2 linked regions of the Homo sapiens genome follow. The protein of the gene in region 2 purifies or fractionates together with the protein of the main gene of each other region. This does not show direct contact. Each region holds a gene or a part of one and is shown on either strand. Other genes may lie near its edges.

What was found. The genes of interacting proteins can lie anywhere in the genome.
Region 1: the proteins of GLI3 (region 2) and HSPG2 purify together in Homo sapiens (affinity purification with mass spectrometry; one large-scale study listed by BioGRID and IntAct). This does not show direct contact.

What each region holds. Positions count from the first base shown.
Region 1 is NC_000001.11:21,853,811-21,857,310, reverse strand, and holds part of HSPG2 (basement membrane-specific heparan sulfate proteoglycan core protein isoform b precursor), read left to right. Parts: coding exon 1-26; intron 27-115; coding exon 116-296; intron 297-1,398; coding exon 1,399-1,524; intron 1,525-1,635; coding exon 1,636-1,788; intron 1,789-1,864; coding exon 1,865-2,007; intron 2,008-2,327; coding exon 2,328-2,463; intron 2,464-2,545; coding exon 2,546-2,700; intron 2,701-2,967; coding exon 2,968-3,118; intron 3,119-3,500. UniProt on the Homo sapiens protein: Integral component of basement membranes. Component of the glomerular basement membrane (GBM), responsible for the fixed negative electrostatic membrane charge, and which provides a barrier which is both size- and charge-selective.
Region 2 is NC_000007.14:41,964,710-41,968,209, reverse strand, and holds part of GLI3 (transcriptional activator GLI3), read left to right. Parts: intron 1-286; coding exon 287-614; intron 615-1,568; coding exon 1,569-3,500. UniProt on the Homo sapiens protein: Has a dual function as a transcriptional activator and a repressor of the sonic hedgehog (Shh) pathway, and plays a role in limb development.

The DNA of each region.
Region 1 (3,500 bases), on a different chromosome or scaffold from region 2:
CCTTCATCTGCACAGCCAAAAGCAAGGTGTGCAGGTCAGGGAGTGGGGATGGAGGAAGTCTGTCTTCTGGGGTCTCTGAGCCCCACCCATGACCCCCTTTCGCCTTGCCCTGCAGTCCCCAGCCTATACCCTGGTGTGGACCCGCCTGCACAACGGGAAACTGCCCACCCGAGCCATGGATTTCAATGGCATCCTGACCATTCGCAACGTCCAGCTGAGTGATGCAGGCACCTACGTGTGCACCGGCTCCAACATGTTTGCCATGGACCAGGGCACAGCCACTCTACATGTGCAGGGTACACCTCCCATCTATACCTGATTCTCCCCTCCTGTCTCTCCCCCATTCCCACCAGAATTAGCACAGCATTTCTTCATTCTGCTGATCATTTCTGAGCACCTGCTGCATGCCTGGTCCTGGTCTAGGCTCTGCAGAAGCAGGGGAGAGAAGCATGTACAGTATCTCGGTCCTCCTGAAGTACACGTCCTAGGCAGGGAGACCATAAGCATGGGAATAAATGAACAAGCAAGATAACTACACATGGCGATGAGTGCCAGGCTAGGAATGATGAGAAAGCAAGAAACAAGGTGGGAGAAGGCCAGGAGCGGTGGCTCACACCTGTAAGCCCAGCACTTTGGGAGGCTGAGGCAGGTGGATCACTTGAGGTCAGGAGTTCCAGACCAGCCTGGCCAACAGGTGAAACCCTGTCTCTACTAAAAATACAAAAACTAGCTGGGTGTGGTGGCAGGTGCCTATAATCCCAGCTACTCAGGAGGCTGAGGCAGGAGAATCGCTTGAACCCGGGAGGCTTAGGTTGCAGTGAGCCGAGATCGCGCCACTGCACTCCAGCCTGGGTGACAGAGCAAGAATCCATCTCAGAAAAATAAATAAAATAAAACAAGGTGGGAGAGGCAAGGGCTACTCTAGATAGGGCAGTCAGGGAGGGCCTCTCTGAGGAGGTGACACCTAAGCTGAGACCTGAAGGAAAGGTAGGCATTGAGCAAGTTAGAGAGTTGGCAGAGTGTTCTTGGCAGAGGGAGCAGCACATGGCAAGGCCCTGAGGCAGGAGCACGTTGCTATGTTTGAGGAACAGCAGAGACCACGTGGCTGGGGCTGTGGGAGGGAGGACGGGTGTGGGCAGACGGGAGAGCATGGAGTATGTGGTGGATCAGGGTAGGAATTTTGGATTTTATTCTAAAAGCAACAGGGAGTCATGGACAGGTCTCAAGGTGGGAGGTCACAAGGTCCTGTTGACATTTCCCAAGCTCCCTCTGGCTCCTGTGTGCACAGATGGCCGTGGAGGGCTAGCCTGGAAGCAGAGAAAGTAGGCAGCAGGACTGTTGTGTGAGTCAGACGACACTCCCCACCCTGAGTGCATGTTCCTTTTCCTCCCTTGTCAGCCTCGGGCACCTTGTCCGCCCCCGTGGTCTCCATCCATCCGCCACAGCTCACAGTGCAGCCCGGGCAACTGGCGGAGTTCCGCTGCAGCGCCACAGGGAGCCCCACGCCCACCCTCGAGTGGACAGGTGAGGCCGTGATGGGAATGACATTCAAGGCCTGACTCTCCTGGGTGTGGGAGGGGAGGGGCAGGACTCTGAGCAGGCTTGGTGGGTGCTGACCCCACGTCTACTCGTCAGGGGGCCCCGGCGGCCAGCTCCCTGCGAAGGCACAAATCCACGGCGGCATCCTGCGCCTGCCAGCTGTCGAGCCCACGGATCAGGCCCAGTACTTGTGCCGAGCCCACAGCAGCGCTGGGCAGCAGGTGGCCAGGGCTGTGCTCCACGTGCATGGTGAGAGGCCGGGCTCAGGGTGGGGGCCGGGAGTGTGCTCAGCCCAGGGCGTGTTCTCACAGGACTCTGTCTGCAGGGGGCGGTGGGCCCAGAGTCCAAGTGAGCCCAGAGAGGACCCAGGTCCACGCAGGCCGCACCGTCAGGCTGTACTGCAGGGCTGCAGGCGTGCCTAGCGCCACCATCACCTGGAGGAAGGAAGGGGGCAGCCTCCCACCACAGGTGAGGAGATGGGCCCACCCAGGAGGAGGAGGCCCACAGGCTCTGCAGAGAGTCCCAGCCACCTTCCCTCCCCCTTCACGCCCCACCCCACCTCCTCCTCTGTGGCTCCCTTCACCTCCAAGATGGTGGTCTCCTGCCCCTGCATCCCAGCAGGGAGCCCCTGCCGTCCTCTTGGCTGCCTGGCGTTTGTCCTCCTTCATGCCCCACTGGGCCCTAATATTGGCCCTGCACCTGCCTCTCCCTTTTATGCCCTATCTGTCCCCCTGGCCAGCCGTTGTCCAGCTGCCTCTGGGGCAGCTGACCCATCTCACCCACGGCAGGCCCGGTCAGAGCGCACAGACATCGCGACACTGCTCATCCCAGCCATCACGACTGCTGACGCCGGCTTCTACCTCTGCGTGGCCACCAGCCCTGCAGGCACTGCCCAGGCCCGGATCCAAGTGGTTGTCCTTTCAGGTACGGACTCTCTGGGAATGGAGGGGTGGGGAGGGCAAGCCAGGGCTCCCCTGGGGCCTGCTGACCCCTACTCTGGCCCCAGCCTCAGATGCCAGCCCACCGCCGGTCAAGATTGAGTCCTCATCGCCTTCTGTGACAGAAGGGCAAACACTCGACCTCAACTGTGTGGTGGCAGGGTCAGCCCATGCCCAGGTCACCTGGTACAGGCGAGGGGGTAGCCTGCCTCCCCACACCCAGGTATGTGGGCCCTGAGCCTATGGCAGGGGACCCAGGGTGCAGGGGCTGTGGCGGAGGCGGGGCCTGTACGCTGGGCGGGGGAGGCGGCACACTGCCCCACACGTTCCACCAGCAGAAGCCAGGCCTCATCTCCCTCCCTCCCAGTTTCTAGCATGGGATGGCTCGGAGCAGAGCCAGTGAGAGTTTGAATGAATCACTGAGGCTGAGGGAGTGGTGACAATAGCCCCCGTCCCTGTCCTCACGTACCTCTGGCTCCTCCTGGCCCAGGTGCACGGCTCCCGTCTGCGGCTCCCCCAGGTCTCACCAGCTGATTCTGGAGAATATGTGTGCCGTGTGGAGAATGGATCGGGCCCCAAGGAGGCCTCCATTACTGTGTCTGTGCTCCACGGCACCCATTCTGGCCCCAGCTACACCCCAGGTGAGGAGCCAGGTGTGGCTGGGCCGGGGCTGAGCCCTAGGAGCTCCCAAGGAAGATGCCTGTGGCTTCTTCAGTGGGACCAGGACAGGGGGGCATTCCAGGCAGGCTTTGACCCTTCAGCGCCTGCTCAGAGAGAGAAGGAGGTTGAGTGGACGGGAGGGAGGTTAAGGCTGGTCCAGCTTACCTGGGCTCCCTATGAGTGACTGTTTCAGAATTTGTCAGGAAGCAGCAGAATGTCCAGGTTGAATACTAAGCTGGGAGTCGGCTGACCTGGTTCAAATCCCAGATCTGCCCCTTAGCAACCTTGAACTAGCTTTTAACTTTTGGGGCCTCAGATTCATCTATGAAATGGAGCAGTACTGCCCACCTGCTTGGTCATGGT
Region 2 (3,500 bases):
GTCTGCAGAGTTGGCGATTGGGGCAGGATTCCATGGCTGATACCATGCCAGTCACACTGCAGCTAGCATTCTCTGCTTTCCATTGCCTCCTGTTGCCCATCAGCCTGGTGGTCCATCCGTCATTCTGGCCAAAAGTGGCCAGCTCCATTCACCAGAACATAGTTTTTCTTCTCATTCAACCAACTGATGATCTTGAAGATCTCGATATGCATGAGCTCTCATTATTGGCTCCCTTTCCTTGACCCTCCCTGGTGACATTTCTTTCCTTTCCACTTGACCCCAACAGACATCTCAGCCAAGCCCTGGTGGTCAGTCTTCATGCAGCAGCCAACAGTCCCCCATCAGCAACTATTCCAACAGTGGGCTCGAGCTTCCTCTGACCGATGGAGGTAGTATAGGAGACCTCAGTGCCATCGATGAAACCCCAATCATGGACTCAACCATTTCCACTGCAACCACAGCCCTTGCTTTGCAAGCCAGGAGAAACCCGGCAGGGACCAAATGGATGGAGCACGTAAAACTAGAAAGGCTAAAACAAGTGAATGGAATGTTTCCGCGACTGAACCCCATTCTACCCCCTAAAGCCCCTGCGGTCTCTCCTCTCATAGGAAATGGTGAGTTCTACATCAGACCATGCATCTGCTCAGGGTTTTTTTTTCTGTTCTTTTAAATGCAGGCCCTCAGTTTTATGTTTGCTAGTTTCTCCACCAGTCCTAAAATGACGCTGTAACCATCCGTTAATGTTTAGCCCATTCAAGTTGCCTTTTGGGATTGTCCATATTTTAAAAACAGCTAGGAACAGGATAATATTGAGAAAAAAATGTGACTGTGCATGACTCATATTCTGATGGTGAAATCATAACTGTTAGATTAGGGTAAGGGAATGCCAGCAGTGGAGGCATCTGTGGTTGGAACTCTGTCTCTGGTTTCCAAAATTTAAAACCACGAGGTTAGCAGCCACTTTTATTTATATTTACCCAGTTCAAGGAAAGTCAGAAATCCCTCCCCACTGTCAGTCCCCAGGTCAGTTTGCACTTCTGAGATTACACTTCTGAGAGCACCTAAGGGGTGAAGCTCTTGCCTGCACCAACACAGGTGTTACCTGTTGGTAGGATGTGGCATGAACAGGACGCCCTGAGCGTGAATGTGAAACTCGTGGAGTACCTTTGCCTGGGGACTTGCCTGGAACTCAAGCGTTGTGTACCATCACAAGATTCTTTTTGTCCTTGCACAGCGCTTGGGGAGGGGCTTCAGTGAATCGAGGGAGTTGTTATTGTTTTGTTTAAGCCAGGCATCAGCAAACTACAGCCTGCGGCCATCTCCAGCCGCCCCTGTTTTTGTAAAGGAAGCTTCATGGACACCCCGCCACGCTTGCTTGCTCACTGCTCTCTGTGGCCGTGTTGGGGCTACACTGCAGAGCTGAGTAGTTGTGAGGCAGGCAATGTGGCCTGGGACACCAGAAATAGTTCCTAGCTGGCCCTTTACAGAAAAGGGTTGCTCATGCCTGGTGTAAGTCATGCTCGAAGGGAATTCATCTCCGCATGGTCTCTCCCTTTCTCTGTCTCCAGGCACACAGTCCAACAACACCTGCAGCTTGGGTGGGCCCATGACGCTTCTCCCGGGCAGAAGCGACCTCTCTGGGGTGGACGTCACTATGCTGAACATGCTCAACAGAAGGGACAGCAGCGCCAGCACCATCAGCTCGGCCTACCTGAGCAGCCGCCGCTCCTCAGGGATCTCGCCCTGCTTCTCCAGCCGCCGCTCCAGCGAGGCGTCACAGGCCGAGGGCCGGCCGCAGAACGTGAGCGTGGCCGACTCCTACGACCCCATCTCCACCGACGCCTCGCGCCGCTCCAGCGAAGCCAGCCAGAGCGACGGCCTGCCCAGCCTGCTCAGCCTCACGCCCGCCCAGCAGTACCGCCTCAAGGCCAAGTACGCGGCTGCCACAGGAGGGCCGCCGCCGACGCCCCTGCCCAACATGGAGAGGATGAGCCTGAAGACGCGCCTGGCGCTGCTCGGGGATGCCCTCGAGCCTGGCGTGGCCCTGCCTCCAGTTCATGCCCCGAGGAGGTGCAGCGACGGGGGAGCCCACGGCTACGGGCGGCGCCACCTGCAGCCGCACGATGCGCCGGGCCACGGCGTGAGGAGGGCCAGCGACCCGGTGCGGACAGGCTCCGAGGGCCTGGCCCTGCCTCGTGTGCCGCGCTTCAGCAGCCTCAGCAGCTGCAACCCCCCGGCGATGGCCACGTCCGCGGAGAAGCGCAGTCTCGTGCTTCAGAATTACACGCGGCCCGAGGGCGGCCAGTCCCGAAACTTCCACTCGTCCCCCTGTCCTCCCAGCATCACCGAGAACGTCACCCTGGAGTCCCTGACCATGGACGCTGATGCCAACCTGAACGATGAGGATTTCCTGCCGGACGACGTGGTGCAGTATTTAAATTCCCAGAACCAAGCAGGGTACGAGCAGCACTTCCCCAGCGCCCTCCCGGACGACAGCAAAGTGCCCCACGGGCCCGGTGACTTTGACGCGCCCGGGCTGCCAGACAGCCACGCTGGCCAGCAGTTCCATGCCCTCGAGCAGCCCTGCCCCGAGGGCAGCAAAACCGACCTGCCCATTCAGTGGAACGAAGTCAGCTCCGGAAGCGCCGACCTGTCCTCCTCCAAGCTCAAGTGTGGGCCGCGGCCCGCTGTGCCGCAGACTCGCGCCTTTGGGTTCTGCAACGGCATGGTCGTCCACCCGCAGAACCCCTTGAGGAGCGGGCCTGCTGGGGGCTATCAGACCCTCGGGGAGAACAGCAACCCCTACGGTGGCCCAGAGCACTTGATGCTCCACAACAGCCCCGGAAGTGGCACCAGTGGAAACGCCTTCCATGAACAGCCCTGTAAGGCCCCGCAGTATGGGAACTGTCTCAACAGGCAGCCAGTGGCCCCTGGTGCACTCGACGGTGCCTGTGGTGCCGGGATTCAAGCCTCAAAGCTGAAGAGCACCCCCATGCAAGGGAGCGGGGGCCAGCTGAATTTCGGCCTGCCGGTAGCGCCAAATGAGTCAGCTGGCAGCATGGTGAATGGCATGCAGAACCAGGACCCAGTGGGACAGGGGTACCTGGCTCACCAGCTCCTCGGCGACAGCATGCAGCACCCGGGGGCAGGCCGCCCCGGTCAGCAGATGCTTGGGCAGATTAGTGCTACCTCACACATCAACATCTACCAAGGGCCAGAGAGCTGCCTGCCAGGGGCTCACGGCATGGGCAGCCAGCCGTCAAGCTTGGCAGTTGTCAGGGGCTACCAGCCATGTGCCAGCTTTGGGGGCAGCAGGCGCCAGGCTATGCCGAGGGACAGCCTTGCTCTGCAGTCAGGACAGCTCAGTGACACAAGTCAGACCTGCAGGGTGAATGGTATCAAGATGGAGATGAAAGGGCAGCCCCATCCGCTGTGCTCTAATCTGCAGAATTACTCTGGTCAGTTCTATGACCAAACCGTGGGCTTCAGTCAGCAAGACA